Linked DNA regions of Homo sapiens: region 1 is linked to region 2. Evidence: fine-mapped expression QTL. Tissue or cell type: whole blood. Region 2 holds a variant in brackets; the other region holds the start of a gene. All regions are shown on one strand. Distances are from middle to middle.

What was found. PIP is the estimated chance that this variant, and not a neighbour inherited with it, causes the effect.
Region 1: VEGFA starts here. The variant in region 2 is fine-mapped to the expression of VEGFA in whole blood (INTERVAL, PIP 0.96).

What each region holds. Positions count from the first base shown.
Region 1 is chr6:43,766,275-43,774,373 of GRCh38, reverse strand. VEGFA (vascular endothelial growth factor A) reads right to left here and starts at 4,163. Exons shown (of 8, transcript NM_003376.6): 1 at 3,062-4,163; 2 at 1-33. The coding sequence starts at 3,667. RefSeq lists enhancers at 675-1,440, 1,441-2,206, 2,207-2,972, 2,973-3,738 and silencers at 2,194-2,713, 2,784-3,723, 4,101-4,350.
Region 2 is chr6:43,800,821-43,808,919 of GRCh38, reverse strand. All of the region lies in intron 1 of LOC105375070 (a long non-coding RNA gene), which reads right to left. Among named protein-coding and RNA genes, the nearest start is that of VEGFA, 35 kb to the right of the region's middle. RefSeq lists a silencer at 1,034-1,328. The variant C/T (reference allele first, on the strand shown) is at 4,705.

The DNA of each region.
Region 1 (8,099 bases), 35 kb after region 2:
TCCTCCTTCTGCCATGGGTGCAGCCTGGGACCACTGAGGACAGAAAGAGAGCAAGGCATGGGCATGGGCAGGGGCTGGGGTGCACAGGCCCAGCCACCCAGCCCCTCCTCCCTCCTCACTTCCCTCCCACCAACAGCCTCTGGCTTCTCCAAGTCTTCTGAGTCGAACAGGACACAACCGGGGGTCCCCACGGGCACAGAATATGCCCACCACTCCTGGACTGCTATGGTTATGAACCCGAGGAAGTTAAAGACTAACCAGATGTTGGGGGCTGGGGAGCTCGAAATGCAGGAGGAAAACCCCAGAATGCTTCACTGTCGAGGTCCCCTGTACCTTCCCCACACTTCCCTCTCCCTGCTCTCACTATCCCCCTAGTTCCCTGGTCCAAAGCCATGGTAAGTATTAAGGTCAAATAGGAGGACAAATTTGGACTGGGGCAGGAAGGAAGGACTAGGGGCGAGAAAAACAACATGGTGACCTTCTCCTGCTGACATGACAAATACCAGGGTGAGCTGGTGTTGGAGACGGAGGGGGGTGCCGAGGACCGAAGGGCACCAACCACCCTCCCCCATCCAAGCTCTTCTAGTCCTTAGGAATAACCCAGCATGCCCACAGGTTGCTTAGAGGGTAAAAACCCAGGAGGAGACCCTGGGGGAGAACCACATTTTCCTCTCTACACAAATCTCTCCAGAGCCTCAATAGATTTCCAAAGCCTCACCTGTCTCCCACTCCTACCTGTTCCCTGGTTTCTTCTCCCTCCCAGGGTGAGGAGGTGCCAAGCCCCTCTCACCTGGGCACCTTCAAATGCCACCAGGGACCAGGGAAGGCTTTTATGCCTTGGCACTGCCCAGCCCCTAGGGGGCCCCCTGCACCACCTTAGGCCTGAGGCCTCCTCTAACCCTCCCCACCCGCATCAGATCATTCCTCCCCTCGCCAGAAGCTGTGAAGGTCAACACGCCAAGACATGCGGACCTGACAGCACCCAAAAGGAAAGGCTTCTGCCAGCCCTTCCTGGGGGTCTCCAGCTCTCACCAACTCCCCTCCCGCCCAGCACTCGCAGAGCAGAGGGGCACTCTAGCCTACGGAACACCAGACCCTGCTAGGGGAGAGTCCCACTGTCCATCTTTCTTTCCCTCTCCTTCCCACACACCCCAAATGCACCCCACTCAGGTACCCCAGCCCTGCTCCCAGAGACAGCCAAGGTCACAGGAAGCCCCTCTCAAGAGAAAACAACAGTTACCAGGCTTCCAGCTGGACAGCTTACCACTGCGGCTCCTGCAGGGACCCCCTGGATTCTGCACCTCAGCCCCCTCACCCATTCCCATGACACCCCCTGCCTTCCCCCTGACAATATTCTCCCGGGACCCTCCACTCCTCCTGGGCCCCAAGGAGGAAAGGGGACGGAAATTTCATACCCCTTCCAAGGCCAGGGAGCACAGGAGGGGCGGTTCTAGGCAGGCAGGGGCCAGGTGTCCTTCTCTGGGGGCCTCTGAAGGTCACACTGTGGCCAGGCAGCCACTCCTCCCCCTCCTCCCTACTTGGAGGCCTGTAGCCAAGGCCTTTGTGCCAGGGTCTGAGGAACTTGCGGTGTTAGCAGCGACCCCTGTCCATGGCTTTCCTCTTGCCTCCTCTCCAAGGGAATTCTGGCTGAGGGAAGGCGTCAGAGAGGAGCGGAAAGGGACCCTTTAGAGTCCCTTTCAGAAGCAAGTTGGGTGGGCAGGTTTGGAGTTCCAAAAAAACACCTGCTCCAGGGCTGCCTTTCACCAGGACAAAGTGTGTGCAAGGCTGGCAGGAGCTCCTTTCCAGGGTTCAGGAAGGACTATTCCCATGCTGCCCGTGTCACAGCAAATTTCAAGCCATTTCTCCAAAAGGGTAAAGTGGGGCAATGACTCTTCAAATCCTCCCTTGACCCACCCCCACGAGAGCTAAAGCACAGCTCACTCGGAACTGTTGGCGAGGGAAGGGAAGCACACTGTCACCAAGTCGGGACTTTCGGTGGAATGTGACAAAGCGCCCAGTGGGCTCCCGCGCCACGACTTCTGACAGTGATCATCCTTTCCCTGGACTCTGGGGCCAGAAAGGGGTTAGATGGATCTTCTCCGCAGAGAGAAATGAAAATAAGCGGGGTGACAGGGGCTTCTCTCCAGGCTAAAAAGGAAATGGGTGAAGAGAAGGGGCGTCAGGAAATTCCTCCTAGCACTGGGCAGAGGTAGGGTCTGGAGACAGTAGGAAGGGGTAGGGATGGTTCTCTGGATCCCCGGGCTGGGGCTACCTCGAGAGGTCACCTTCCCGCGGAGGGCTGGCGGGGGGAGGGGTGCCGCTCGCCACTCTGGGCTCCCCATTCGGGCAGCCGAGGCTCCGGGAACACGCGGCCGGCCAGGCCCGGGCTGATGTAATCGGCTCCGCGCCGCGCGCACCCGGCCGGGCGGGGGAGGGCGGGCACCGAGCGGGACGCGAGCGGGGACGGGCGGGGTTGGCGCGGCGCAGGTGGCCCAGCAGGGAGGGGGGGTCCCCGCAGCAATCCACCCCAAAACTTTTCCCAAACTCGCGGCGAGGGCTGAAGAGACCGAGTGGCAGTGACAGCAAGCCCCCTCTCCCTCCTGCGCCCTGCCCCCTCCACGCTCTCTGCCCTCCCGCGGTCCAAGGTCCGAGCACCCCCTGCCCACTGGTCTCTGGCTCCCGCCCCCGCTGCTCAGACTTCCAGTTCGTCCGGGACCAGCGGCCGGGAGCAAACTTCAGCCGGCAGCGGCAACGCAAGCCCAGCCCCCTCGGCCTCCTCCTCCGGCTCCCGCCCTCGGCTGGTCGGCCCAGATCGTACGTGCGGTGACTCCGGTGGGTGGGCAGGGCCCGCGTGGGCGGTGAGCCTCTCTCCGGGTACCCTCCCACCTAGCGCGCGCGCCCCCTCCCCCTGCACCTAAGACGACAGAGGGGGACGCCGCACGCCTGGTGCCCATGGACCCGCGTGGGGCACGGAGCCCCCACGCGCGCGCTCGCACGCACGTCCCCAGCCGGGAGAGGCGCTCGCAGCGGCCCGCGGCGCCAGCAGGGCACGACCGCTTACCTTGGCATGGTGGAGGTAGAGCAGCAAGGCAAGGCTCCAATGCACCCAAGACAGCAGAAAGTTCATGGTTTCGGAGGCCCGACCGGGGCCGGCGCGGCTCGCGCTCCCTCTCCGGCTCGGGCTGTGGGGCGGCCCGCTCTCCTCGGCGCCTCGGCGAGCTACTCTTCCTCCCCGGCCCGAGGCCCGGGCCAGGGCCTGGGGAGCGCGCGCGGCTGGAGCACTGTCTGCGCACACCGCCGCCTCACCCGTCCATGAGCCCGGCTTCCGAGCGCCGAGTCGCCACTGCGGCCCCCTCTCCTCTTCCTTCTCTTCTTCCTCCTCCCCCTCCTCCGGCTGCGGCTCCTCCCGGCCCGAGCTAGCACTTCTCGCGGCTCCGCTCGGCTCGGCTTCCCCCGCGCGGACCACGGCTCCTCCGAAGCGAGAACAGCCCAGAAGTTGGACGAAAAGTTTCAGTGCGACGCCGCGAGCCCCGACCCCCTCCACCCCGCCTCCGGGCGCGGGCTCCGGCCCCTGCCCGCGGCTCGCCGCCGCGTCCACTGTCCGCCGCCGGCCGGGGAGGAGGTGGTAGCTGGGGCTGGGGGCGGTGTCTGTCTGTCTGTCCGTCAGCGCGACTGGTCAGCTGCGGGATCCCAAGGGGGAGGGCTCACGCCGCGCTCCGGCGGTCACCCCCAAAAGCAGGTCACTCACTTTGCCCCTGTCGCTTTCGCTGCTCGCACGCCCGCGCGCTCTCTCTGACCCCGTCTCTCTCTTCCTCGACTTCTCTCTGGAGCTCTTGCTACCTCTTTCCTCTTTCTGCTGGTTTCCAAAATCCACAGTGATTTGGGGAAGTAGAGCAATCTCCCCAAGCCGTCGGCCCGATTCAAGTGGGGAATGGCAAGCAAAAATAAATTAAAACGAGAAACAATACAGTTTTAAAAAAAAATGTTTAAGAAAAAAGAAGAGGGATAAAACCCGGATCAATGAATATCAAATTCCAGCACCGAGCGCCCTGGCCGGTGAGTCCGCTGACCGGTCCACCTAACCGCTGCGCCTCCCGACAGAGCGCTGGTGCTAGCCCCCAGCGCCACGACCTCCGAGCTACCCGGCTGCCCCAAGCCTCCGCGATCCTCCCCGCTACCAGCCGACTTTTAAAAAAAAAAGGGGGGGGCGCATGGCTCCGCCCCGCCGGGACCCCGCCCCCGGCCCGCCCCGGGGGGCGGGGACAGGCGAGCCTCAGCCCTTCCACACGCGGCTCGGGCCCGGGCTCTGCGGACGCTCAGTGAAGCCTGGCCCGCAGCCCGCCGCAATGAAGGGGAAGCTCGACCCCCACCAAGGTTCACAGCCTGAAAATTACCCATCCGCCCCCGGAAACTCTGTCCAGAGACACGCGCCCGCGGGGCATTGGCGAGGAGGGAGCAGGAAAGTGAGGTTACGTGCGGACAGGGCCTGAGAGCCGTTCCCTCTTTGCTAGGAATATTGAAGGGGGCAGGGGAAGGCGGAGAGCCGGACAGGGACGGGTGGGGAGAGGGACACACAGATCTATTGGAATCCTGGAGTGACCCCTGGCCTTCTCCCCGCTCCAACGCCCTCAACCCCACACGCACACACTCACTCACCCACACAGACACACACGTCCTCACTCTCGAAGACGCTGCTCGCTCCATTCACCCAGCTTCCCTGTGGTGGCCGAGCGCCCCCTAGTGACTGCCGTCTGCACACCCCGGCTCTGGCTAAAGAGGGAATGGGCTTTGGAAAGGGGGTGGGGGGAGTTTGCTCCTGGACCCCCTATTTCTGACCTCCCAAACAGCTACATATTTGGGACTGGAGTTGCTTCATGTACAGAGAGCCCAGGGCTGGGCACAGGGGCCACAGTGTGTCCCTCTGACAATGTGCCATCTGGAGCCCTCATCTGGCCTGCAGACATCAAAGTGAGCGGCAGCCAACAGGCTGGAGTGACTGGGGTCCTTTGGGAAGTGTCCAGGGATGCTTCCCAGGGGAGAAGAATTTGGCACCAAGTTTGTGGAGCTGAGAACGGGAAGCTGTGTGGTTCCGGGGTTAGTCAGTGACTGGGAGGGAAGAGGACCTGTTGGAGCCCACGTATGCACTGTGGAGTCTGGCAAAACCCAAAGGGGGAGGCAGCTGGGCAGACAGAGGCCCTTGTTCCTGCTGCCCCCCCAACCCCAGATGTTGCCAGGGAACTGAGGCCAGGGGGCTGGTGGGGGCGGGTGGAGGCCAGGGCCTGCGTGATGATTCAAACCTACCCGCCAGCACTAAGGAACGTCTGTAGGCCAGCTGCCCAGAGCTCCCACCAGGCCAGGGGCCAAGGCTTCTATCAGCCCAAGCCCAGACTCATAGCTCATCTTCTGAATAGAAATGGGGGTTTCGTCTCAGCTCCCCCATTCCCTCAGGATCCCTTGGCTACTTCTCCAGGCTCACAGCTTCTCCCCTATCCTTCCCCCAGTCCCCTCCCTTACCTCCAAGCCCCCTTTTCCTCCAACTCTCCACATCTTCCCTAAGTGCTCCCAAAGGCCCCATCCCATTCTTGCATATAGGAAGCAGCTTGGAAAAATTCCTAGCTGGTTTCTGACCTGGCTATTTCCAGGCTGCCCCAGGGAACAAAGTTGGGGCTCTGAGGCCTGTGGGAAGAGTGGGACCAGTCAGTCTGATTATCCACCCAGATCTTGCCAGGGTCTGGCCTACAGCTGGCATAGCCTCTGTGGAGGCATGGACTGAGAATGGGAATGCAGCAATTTCCCTCAATTTAACCAAAACGCTCCAGGGAGCTTACCTAGTCAGCCCCATCCTCAGCACATGTTGCTGTGGTTTGGTGGAGGTGCTAGGTTACCTCCCCAGTACCCCCAGTTCCATCGGTATGGTGTCCTAAGGCCCTTATGAGGAAAAGGGCTGGCTCCCACCCACCCCAACCCTCCCTTTCCATCATTCGTGCACTAGTCCTGTCTCCACCACTTGGCAGGCTCCCCAGCAGCAGGGACAAGGTCTTTGTACAGTTAGTAAATGTTTATTTCCTGGCTCAGGGCCCCCTCCCAGGCAGGCCTCCTCACCTGGGCTCCATGCTCTAGGCTGATGAACGGGATATGGAAGGGAAGCCACTAACTTTCCTCCTTGTGCGCCTCTAGCACCCCAGGAGCACAAGCTGTAGACATCTTGGGGCAGGATGGAGGCTCTGAGCCCTAAGGGCTCATTCTGGCCCCCTCCCTTGCATCCCTTCTCAACTCGGCCTTCTTCAGCCCCTAAAAGAGCCAACAGACCTGAAAGAGCAGGTCTTAGTAAAAAACAAATAAACAAATCTGAAGCTAAGAGGAGGCTGGAGGGGTTCCAAGGAGGGATAGCCATCACCAGTCACTCCGTGGCCCCAGGCACCCCCCACCCCCATAAGCCAACTGTCCTCCATGGTGGTACCCAGCAAGGTGTGTTACAACAACCTGTTTGTGTTTCCCTCTGGGGCTTTGCCCAGGGATCCAGGGGAGTGAGGGCACAGAATTCCTTTTATATAAGGCTAGGATTACAACCTGGCCTAGGGGTTTTTGAGCTACCTTCATTAGGGCGAGAAAGTATGGCCCACCTCCCCCCTTCATTGTGGAGATATAACCTGGCTGTGACCTGGAGGGGTTAACTCTGGATCCCATGCCCCAGTGTGTTGTCACCGGCATTTACAACAATGTACTCTTAAGGACTCAGCCAGTGCCCACATTGTCACCAAATTAAAAGCTCAAGTCACCTAGTCACCTGAGCTTTCAAAAAAGGGGAAAAAGCACAAAACAACAATCACAAGACCACATGTATCTCTGTGGCATCTTCCCTTCCATGGGCTTAGCCCCCTGAACAACTTGACTTCACTTATCCTCACCTCCCTCCCCAGGCTGCTTGCTGCAGGGGAAGGGGCGTCAGAGCAGACTGTCTCCCCAAAGAATCCTCCGAAGGCCCAGAGAGGGCACAAAGGGGCCCAGGGTCACCTAGCAGATTGGGGGAAGGGGCAGTGAAGCAGAGAGCAGCCCACACAGAGGTCATGCTGGCTCCCAGTTGAGGGGCAAACTCGGCCCCGCTTGGAGGGCCTCACCTTGGGAGCGCAGTGGCCACTCCCCACAGTCTGTGGCTCTGAAGGCAGTTCAGAAGGAGCCAAGGAGGAAGGGGAAGGTGTTCCAGGTGAGGGGGAAGGGGAGAAAGGGGTGGGGGTGGAGAAAAGTGCGAAAGGCAGCCAGGAGCCAGCGGCGGCCCCAGACAAAGAAAGTAGTGATTGGGCCAAGGCACAATAGTTGTACTTTGTCCTGATGTCCTGTCACCTCCAATATTCAGGGAAACTCTCGCCTGTGTGGGTGTGGGTGGTTAATCTAGAAGCCGGTGGATGAAGGGACAAAATCTCTCCTGAGATTGGAAAGAAGGTGAGGAGAGAGTCACTGGGTCTTGCTGTTTTCCACACATTTCTCCAAGTGGCTTCACTGCAATGGAAGGAGGTCTTGTCCTTCACTCCATCCCCTGACCCCCAGGTGACTAGCAGGACACTGATCTGCAGGAAGGGCAGGATACAAACCTGGTGAATTGAAGGAGAGAGAATTGGGTTGGTTCCCCTCAATTCCCTGACCCTGACTGTGGGTCAATCTCTGTCTCTCTCTCTCTCTCTCTCTCCCCGCCTAGGTCTTTGCAACAAAGCATTAAAAAGACAAAGAGAAAGCAAAGGAAAGGGCCTCTTTGGTCCAGTGCCAATGTCCTAGCCCCATGTGGATCTGGAGGTTTGACTTGAGGTAATGATAAGTAATGATGGCCAACTGATAAAAAGATTGGAGCAGAGGAAGCCAAGGAGGGTAACTCTCCCAAGAGGATCCAGTCAGGAAAGGGGGAAGGAATGGGGAAGAGGACCTAGCTGGAGAGAGGGCAGGGCAGAGTCACTGTCTGGGGAAGCTCACCTACCCACACCACCCCTAGGCCCATCAGCCTCTGCCTCTCCTTCATGGGCCCCAGTCTAATCCCCTGACACTAAGCTGTCCCTGATGAATTGCATCTCCCCAACACCCCCAGGCATGCTCACCTTCTGACACTCCAA
Region 2 (8,099 bases):
AAAGCCAGGTCTCAAAGAGATACTTGTACACCCATGTTCATAGCAGCATTATTCACAATAACCCGAAGCTGGAGGCAACCCAAGGGTCCATCAATAGATAAAAGGACAAGCAAGATTATTTAACATTTAAAATATTTAAAATGAAGAAATTCCTTTTTTTTTTTTGAGATAGGCTCTTGTTCTGTTGCCCAGGCTGGCGTGCCATCGCATGATTGCAGCCCACGACAGCCTCAACCTCCTGGGCCCAAACCATGCTCCCACCTCAGCCTCCTGAATAGCTGAGATCACAGGCACACCACCGCACTCAGCAATTTTTTTTCTTTTTTCTTTTCTTTTTCTTTCTTTCTTTTTGTTTTTTTGTTTTGTTTTGTTTTGTTTTTTGTTTTTATAGATAGGGGGTTCTCACTATGTTGCCCAGGTGAAAAACGAAGGAATTCTGACACAGGCTACGGCATAAATGAACCTCGAGGACATCATGCTAAGTGAAATAAGCCAGTCACACAAAGACAAATACTGTGTGATTCCACTTATTTGAGATACATGGGATAGTCAAATTCATAGTAACTGAAAGTAAAATGGTGGTTGCCAGGGACTGGAGGGAGGGGAATGGGGAGTTAGTGTTTAATACAGAGCTTCAGTTTTGCAAGATGAAGAGTCCTAGAGATGCATGGTAGTGATGGTTACACAGCGATGTGAATGTACTTAATACCACTGAACTGTACATTTAAAAACGACTAAGAGGGTACATTTTGTTACATGTATTTTACCTCAATAAAACACATCTTTAAAAAAATAGAAGAAGCAGCTAGGCGCAAAGTATAACTCCAAGGCCAGCCAGCCTCAGAGGAGAAAGTCTCCTTGATGCAGACACAGCAGAGGCAGCAAAGAAAGCAGCACCGGGGAGAGCCAAGTGTGTGACGGCAGAGCTGGCCTCAGCCACCAAGCCTGGCCGTGTTCTAGATGTGTCACTTCCCTGCTCTAGGGTTCAGTTTCCTCACCTGTCTAGTGGGATCAGTGAAACCTGCTCTGCCAAACCCGTATGCAGAGCTTGGAAAATGATAAGCCGCAAGTATGCAATGTTATGACACAGATAATAACTGTGAAAAAGCCGCGGTCAGGAATCTGATGGAAGTCTTTAGATTTGAACACTTGAAACAAGACACGTTCAAACTATCATGAGAGGTCTGTGAATCACAAGGAGGAAAGGAGCACTAGCTTGAGATAAAGCCTTCCCAGAAGGAGAAACAGCGCTTTCTGCAGCTGCTTTCCTGAGAGGATAATCTTGTCCATCTCTGTGCCTCCTCCCTGCCAGTCAGAGGCCCTGCCCTGCCCCTAGGGAGCCACCGGGCTGCACAGAGGCAGAAGCAGCCTGCAGACACAGAGCCCAGGGTGGTGGCAGATGAATCCAGCCTGGCTGAGCTCAGGGCCAATAGATTCTCACTAGGGGAGGAAGCAGAGGGGGACATGGGCTGGATGTGGTAAGCCTTGAAAGCTTTCTGGAGGACTGGCTGAGCCACTGTGGTGGGGAAACAGCAGGCACACAGCCCATCACCCATGGTGGCAAAAAGCATGGACTTTGACACGGTACAGACCAGGGTCAAGTCTGCTCTGCCTCTTGCTCTGTGTGATCTTGAGCAGTGATGTGAGCTGAGCTTCCCTTCTCCTCTGGTAAAATGGGGGTGTGATATGCACCCTTCTCACAGGGCACTTGTACAGATTACAAGTGAATCTACGTGCTATGCCCAGGACCCAACAAAGGGCAGCCTTTGTTATCATTATTAGTGCCTATTACTAATATAAGTGTTTTCCAAGGCTGGGAGGTGAGACAGAGATGGAAGATGGGAGAAAGACTGCGACTGTGGTCGGGTCGAGTCAGGGTCACACTGGGGCACCTTCCAGGTCTGGTGGGACATGAATGTGTATAGGGGAAGGAGATAGTAAGGGTCCCAGGGTCCTGCCCTAGCCAAGGCCTGACCCTCTGAGGTCTAAGACATACCCTCACCTCCCATTCGGCTAGGAGAGTCCCCCACCTCCTACTGTGGGAATCTGTCCTGTCAGAGCTGGGGGGAAGCACCCTAGATAAATCTTACCCTCCCTTTGGGGTTTACAGGTTGGTTCCCTGTGCTGTTAGCCATTAAAGACAGATCCCTCCTCATGACCCAAGGCTAACCAGGAGAGCTCCAGGAGGCAGCCTCTATGAGGATGTATTTAAAGGAAGCCCCAGCCTCCTCTTCAGGCAGGCCACCCCTCTTTCACCACCTCCCACCCATCCGCCCAACCGTCTTCACACACAAGGACACCTGGGTCTATTGGTGACCCAACAGGTAATCATTAACCCTGAGAGGAGGCACTGGCCCTTTAAGGCTGCCCTGGGAAGAGATGACAAAATCACACCACTGGACTTTGTGCCCTGAGGCTGTTAGGGAAAACAAGACCCGGGAGTGCGAGAGCCTCAGCTGGGAATCCCAGAGAGCCACTTCTGTCAGCCTTCCTCCCTCTGACTCCTCTCTGATAGGCTTGCCCTGCATGTGAATAATGGTAACTCCGCTATGCATGCAGGTCCAGGGGAGTGGTACCCTCTCTGATAGGCATCCTCTCTCCCTGGATCATTAGGCTTTGTTCATACCCCACCTCCTTCTGACAAGGGTCTCAGTCTGGGCTATCCTTTCAATGCCCATCGTGTGAAAAGGGGGACCATGGTAAGGACCACCCCAGCTACACCCAGCACCCAGCCCAGAGCCCAAGGTACTGACCCACAGAAGGCACTGGCCTCGTAAAGGCAACTGGGTGGTGGCATCCACGGAGAGAGCACAGGGGTGGGAATCAGGACTATTAGGTTCTAGACCCTGCTCCGCCCTGGGTCACTGTGGGGCCTCTGGTGTGTCTCAGCCAATCTCTGATCCCGGTGTCTACACGCAGGCAACGGGCCCTCTCACTGCCAGCTAGTCCTGTGGCTTTGCAGCCCTCGGTAGCAGTGATGGAACAGGGGGTGCTGATGCAGGGGATAGCCACTACTGTCCCTCCTCCTTGTGAACCAGGACCACAAACAGGTCACAGGCACATCTTGGACTAACCAAGATGAGCAAAGCTCTCTTAAACAGCTTACACCAAATAAGTGATTAAGAATCTTTCAAGGGCCTCAAGTGCCAGCGCCTCTGGGAAGCCTTCTCTGACTGTCCCAACCTTTGGCTCCAGTGCTGAGGAACTGCTCTGGTAAATATCTCATCTCCCTGATTGGTTTGTGACCTCTTTGAGGTAAAGGAACTGTATCATCTTCAACACAGAGAGCCAGAGCAAGCACGGTCCCAATATTTTCTGAGTGAATAGATGCATTGACATCAATGGTGTTTAAATATCAGCTCTGCACACAGAAGGAAGCCCCAGGTCTGAGTGATGATGTGCAGGTTTGGCCAAGGATGGGCCCAAGTTCTTTCACAGCTGGGTGACCTCAAGAAACAATCTGACCTCCCTGGCTCTCCTTTGGCCCAGATCCCATAAGCTGGTCAGTTAGTGACCATTGATCAGGAGTCTGCTGTCTGCAGGGCCCTGGGGAGGTTGTCAGAGGGCCACATGGCTCAGTTGTTTTTGGTTCCTTATGAAAAACTCTGAGAAAAACAGCATGAAGAAATCAGGACAGATTAGGCAGACCAAAGATGGGAATAAGATGCAAAGAATAGGCTGGAAGTAACCCCAGGAGACCTCCTAGGGGAGGTGAGTTCTGAAATAGAAACCCAGGACATCCATCCCACTCATTCATTAATTCATTCAGTCATCCATCCATTGAAGCAGCAGACATTATTAGAAGCCAGGCCCTGAGAATGTAAATGAACACAGCCCTTCCCTCAAGTTGTTGACAGTCTCGCTGGGCAGCCAGCATCTAAACTCAGGTGACCACACAGTCTGAGATATGACCTAATAGATACAGACCACATGCCAGAAAATAGAAGAGTGGAAAGCCTCTCAGGAGGGTTTATCTTGAAGGAACCCCCCACCAAAATCTGCTCAGCTGATCTGAGCTTTTACGGGAGCAGGAAATGCAGGTAATGAAAGAAGGGGCGAAAGAACCTTTGTAAAGCAACAGTTACCTGGCAGGTAAACAAGGTTAATGGAGACCTGTTGTTTTTCCAGGTTCTTGGTGACCTCACCTTTGACCAACAATTTCCTGGCACTAGCTCAGGCTGCCAAGGGGGGAAGAGGGGGAGGAAGAAGAGGGTAAACAGCAGGTGAGGCCAAAGGTGGCCCTAGAAGGCAAGGGACACATTCCAAAATGTCTCCCCAGCCTGAGGCCTGCAGCAGAGCCCAAAGTCCAATAGGGAACCCACACCCGCATTCCAGTCATCAAAAACACCATAAATACTGGATTACCCACCAGAAAGGATGCTTTCCGCTGCCTAGGAATGCCTCCCTTTCCCCAAGCTGAGGCCCAGTTCCCCACCTCCCCAAGTGTCCCCTTGTCCAGGAGGCCTTCTAGATCAGCTGGAAGGAGCTGAGGATTTCCACTTGGGCATGACCTGTTCCTCCTACCACCTCTTCCTCTTCTGCAATATCATTAACAACCAACCTTTAGGGGAAACTCCCTCTCTTCACTTCATTCCCTTCAGCCCAGACTGGCCAGTGGGAGAGCCCCAGAGCCATGTGGTGCTGCAATCCTGCTGGGCACTCAAAGAAGAAGCCCTGAAATTTCTCAGCCAGCAGCCAGGTTCC[C/T]GGCTCACTCTGCCACTCACAGGCTGCATGACCCTGGGTGAGTCACCAGACCTCAGTGTTGTCACCTGAAAAACAGGGATGCTGATGAGAAACACAGTCACATGGCTTTTGAAAGGAGCAAAGGAGATAATGTACAAAGTAAAATTAGGCATTATTATTCTAAATGCTGGATGTTACCAGAGATCACCCAAACTTCTAATTTTACTGATGAGGAAACTAAGGTCCAGAAAAGACATTTTAAAATAAAAGGATTTGGGTCCTCTCTCCTCTTCCTTCTCCTCCTCCTATGACTTATCTTCTTAGTTCAGCCTGGCCTTCTAAATACAGGTTTCTAAACTTTGTAAGGCAGAAATCCCTTGGAGAATCTGATAAAAGATAAGGACTTTCTTTCCCCAAAGGACATTCATTCACATACCCCCAAGACTGTGCAGGTAATTTCAGAGGGCTCGTGTGTTCCAGGCTGGGGCTCTGCTCTATGGCAGAGCAGAAAAAGAGAGGCTGTCCGTTCTTGGGTCAAGTCTCCCACAGCCACAGCCACAGCCCCAGGAAAGCAGGAAATAACAAGGGGCCAAGCCTGAACTTCAGGGATCAAACCTCACCCTGAGAGTCCCCCAAAGCCCAGTCCTCAAGGCCCTGGGAAGAAAGTCCCATTTAATCCCCCTCCAAACTCCTCACTACCCTCTCCCTTACCCCCACCCATCCTCTCTCAATCCACCTAAAACCCCCACCCACCCACAGCTCTTCTTTTGAACTGGTTAATTCTGTTCTGGTCTTTGAAAGTCAAACAGAATCTTAGAGACCATCTGTACAAACCTCTTTATCTTTACAGATGAGAACTATAAACAACGAAAGGCATACTGACTTGCCTGAAGTCACCCAGATAATCAGGACAAGAGCCAGGCTACATTCACCAACTCAGTCCCATGGGTGTGCGCTGAGGACCTACTGTGCGTCCTGGGCCCAGCTGGGAGGGGTGGGGCTGCCAAGAATTGATGAGCTGCAACAAGATTGGCAAAGCAAGTCTGAAATCCTTGGAATGAGAGTGCAAACAAGGTTACCAAGCTCCTGATTGTGTAAGAGAGGTTGCACAATCTCTAGAAGTTCAGCAAAGGCAGGGTTAGAGCATTCATTCATTCATTCATTCACTTATTCATTCGCTTAACAAATATTTATTGAACCCTAAGCACTAGTCATGGGGCCAACAGTCTCGACAATCACCCAGGCAAGGTTCCTGCTCCCCTGAAATCCTAGAGAGAGAAAGTCAATCTGTAAACAAATAAATTTTAGCTAGAGATAAATACCATGAAGAAAATTAAAAGAGTGGAATGCAAGCAACTTGGGGATGCCATTTATATTGCAAGGGAGGAGGGGAGAGGTGTTCAAGGAAAGCCTCTTGGAGGAGGTGACATATGAACAGAATCCTGAAAGGTGAGGGGGAGGTATCCATGCAAAGATGTGGAGGCAGCATGTTCCTGAAGGAGGGAACAGCAAGTACGAAGTCCCTAAGCGGACACAACACTGATATGTTCAAGGAAGGAGAGATTATTGTGTGCAGAGGGTGAGAGGGGCCTGCAAGGAGGCTGAAGAGATGGTCAGGAGGCAGACAAGGCCGGGCCTTGTGGACAGGCGATGAAGGCAGGCTTTATTTTGTGTGCAGGGAGGGTTTAAGCACAGAGGTAGCATGATCCTTCCTGTGGCATTAAAGTGGTTTCTGGCTGCTGGGAGGAAAAAGAATTGGAGAAGCTGGAGAGGAATGGAGAAGCCATGGAGCTGAAGCCAGATGGTAGAAAGAGGGGAACAAGGACAGAAGTATTTTTGAAGCAGAGCAGGCCCCGGGATTGCTGATGGCTTTGATCACCCGAAGGGATGGTCAGATTATGAATGCGTCTTTGGGCTTGAGCAGCTGTGGGGATGGAGGTGCCGTTCACAGGTATAAGAAAGTAACAGGCTTATGAGGAGAACGAACTCTTGCAATTTGTATATCAGGGAAAAAAGCTCGATATCCTTTGCTCACAAAACCTGTTCTGTCTGAATGTACTATAAAGACCATGTGTCCATATGACAACAAAAGATACAGCCATTTAAAGAACTCAAAGGTGTCTGTGACAGAGGATGGGGGAGCTAGGCTCTGAAAATAGCCAACGTGGCCAAAAGTGTATCAATCACAAGTAAAATTTCAAAACTGCTTTCCTTCTGGGCTTTCCACACCGTGCGGCTGACAGCCAGGGCTCTCCCTCCAGCCAAAGGCGGGGCCGTGTGGTCAGGGACCGAGGCTGGCAGGGGCACCTCACGCCCTGTGTTTGAGCTTCTTTCACTCGTGCTCCCTCTCATCTGATTTTCATGTTGTGCGAACCATGGTCACTAGATTTGGGCATGGTTCTTTCTGTAAGTCAAGAGATTTTTTTTTTCTTTTATAATCATCTTCTTTGAGAATGAAGGCGTTTCTTTTTATTGGGAAAAAAGTACCAGCTGGAATTATACACTGAATCACATTCCCGGCGCCACGTTCTGAGGGGAACTTGGGCATTAGATCCTGCCACGGCACTCCCGCTGGGCGCCCTCAATCAGAGGACAACACTGACCATCTGCCCTGTGCCTGTCAATGCAAACCCCAGAGGAAGACACAGAAAATTCCTTCCTCTAGGGATTTTGGTTGGGAAAATCCAGGCTTTTCCTCCAACTCTGTATCCTGTGTAGTCCTACTGGACCCCAAACCCAAGGCTTCTGACCTTGACGAGCCCCAGTCTCAGTCCTAGCCTCAGTCAGCCCTGCCTCTCTCCTGGGCCTTCCCTGACCTCTGCCACATCCCCTTCTTTCTTTCCTTCATCCTTCTTTACCTCTGACTGGAGATGTCCTGAACTTTTTTGCTCCGGTGCTGGTCTAGCCCTAGGCCACCTCCTCCAGGAAGCCCCTAGTGGTCAAGCCTGATGCCATCATCAACCTGGCAGCAGTTTCCAGTGCTCTCTCCTTCTATATACTGGTGTGTGATGGTCCTGGATTGTGTGCGTGTGTACATGTGTAACAGATCTGAAGGAGCATCTCTTCTGTTCAGATAGGAGGATCTTAGGGGCCTCATAATGACCAGCGGACACCTTTCCATTCTCTTCCTCGAGAATCCTCTCATTACGGGCCTGTTGCCAGTGACTGGCCTGTCTTCCCACTCTCCCTGGCCTCTGTTTCAGGTCCCTTCCATCCAGCCAACACATATTTACTGAGTACCTATTCTGTGCCAGACACGTGCTGAGAGCACAAGTATGAACAAGATAGGCAGTTCCCAGCTCTCATGGAACTGCTATTCTGAGTGAGGCATCCTCAGGGAGGTCGATGGGTGCGTGGGGAGCGTGTACACAGAGGGAGAGAGAGAGATCATCACCCACAGTGACAGGTGCCATTTG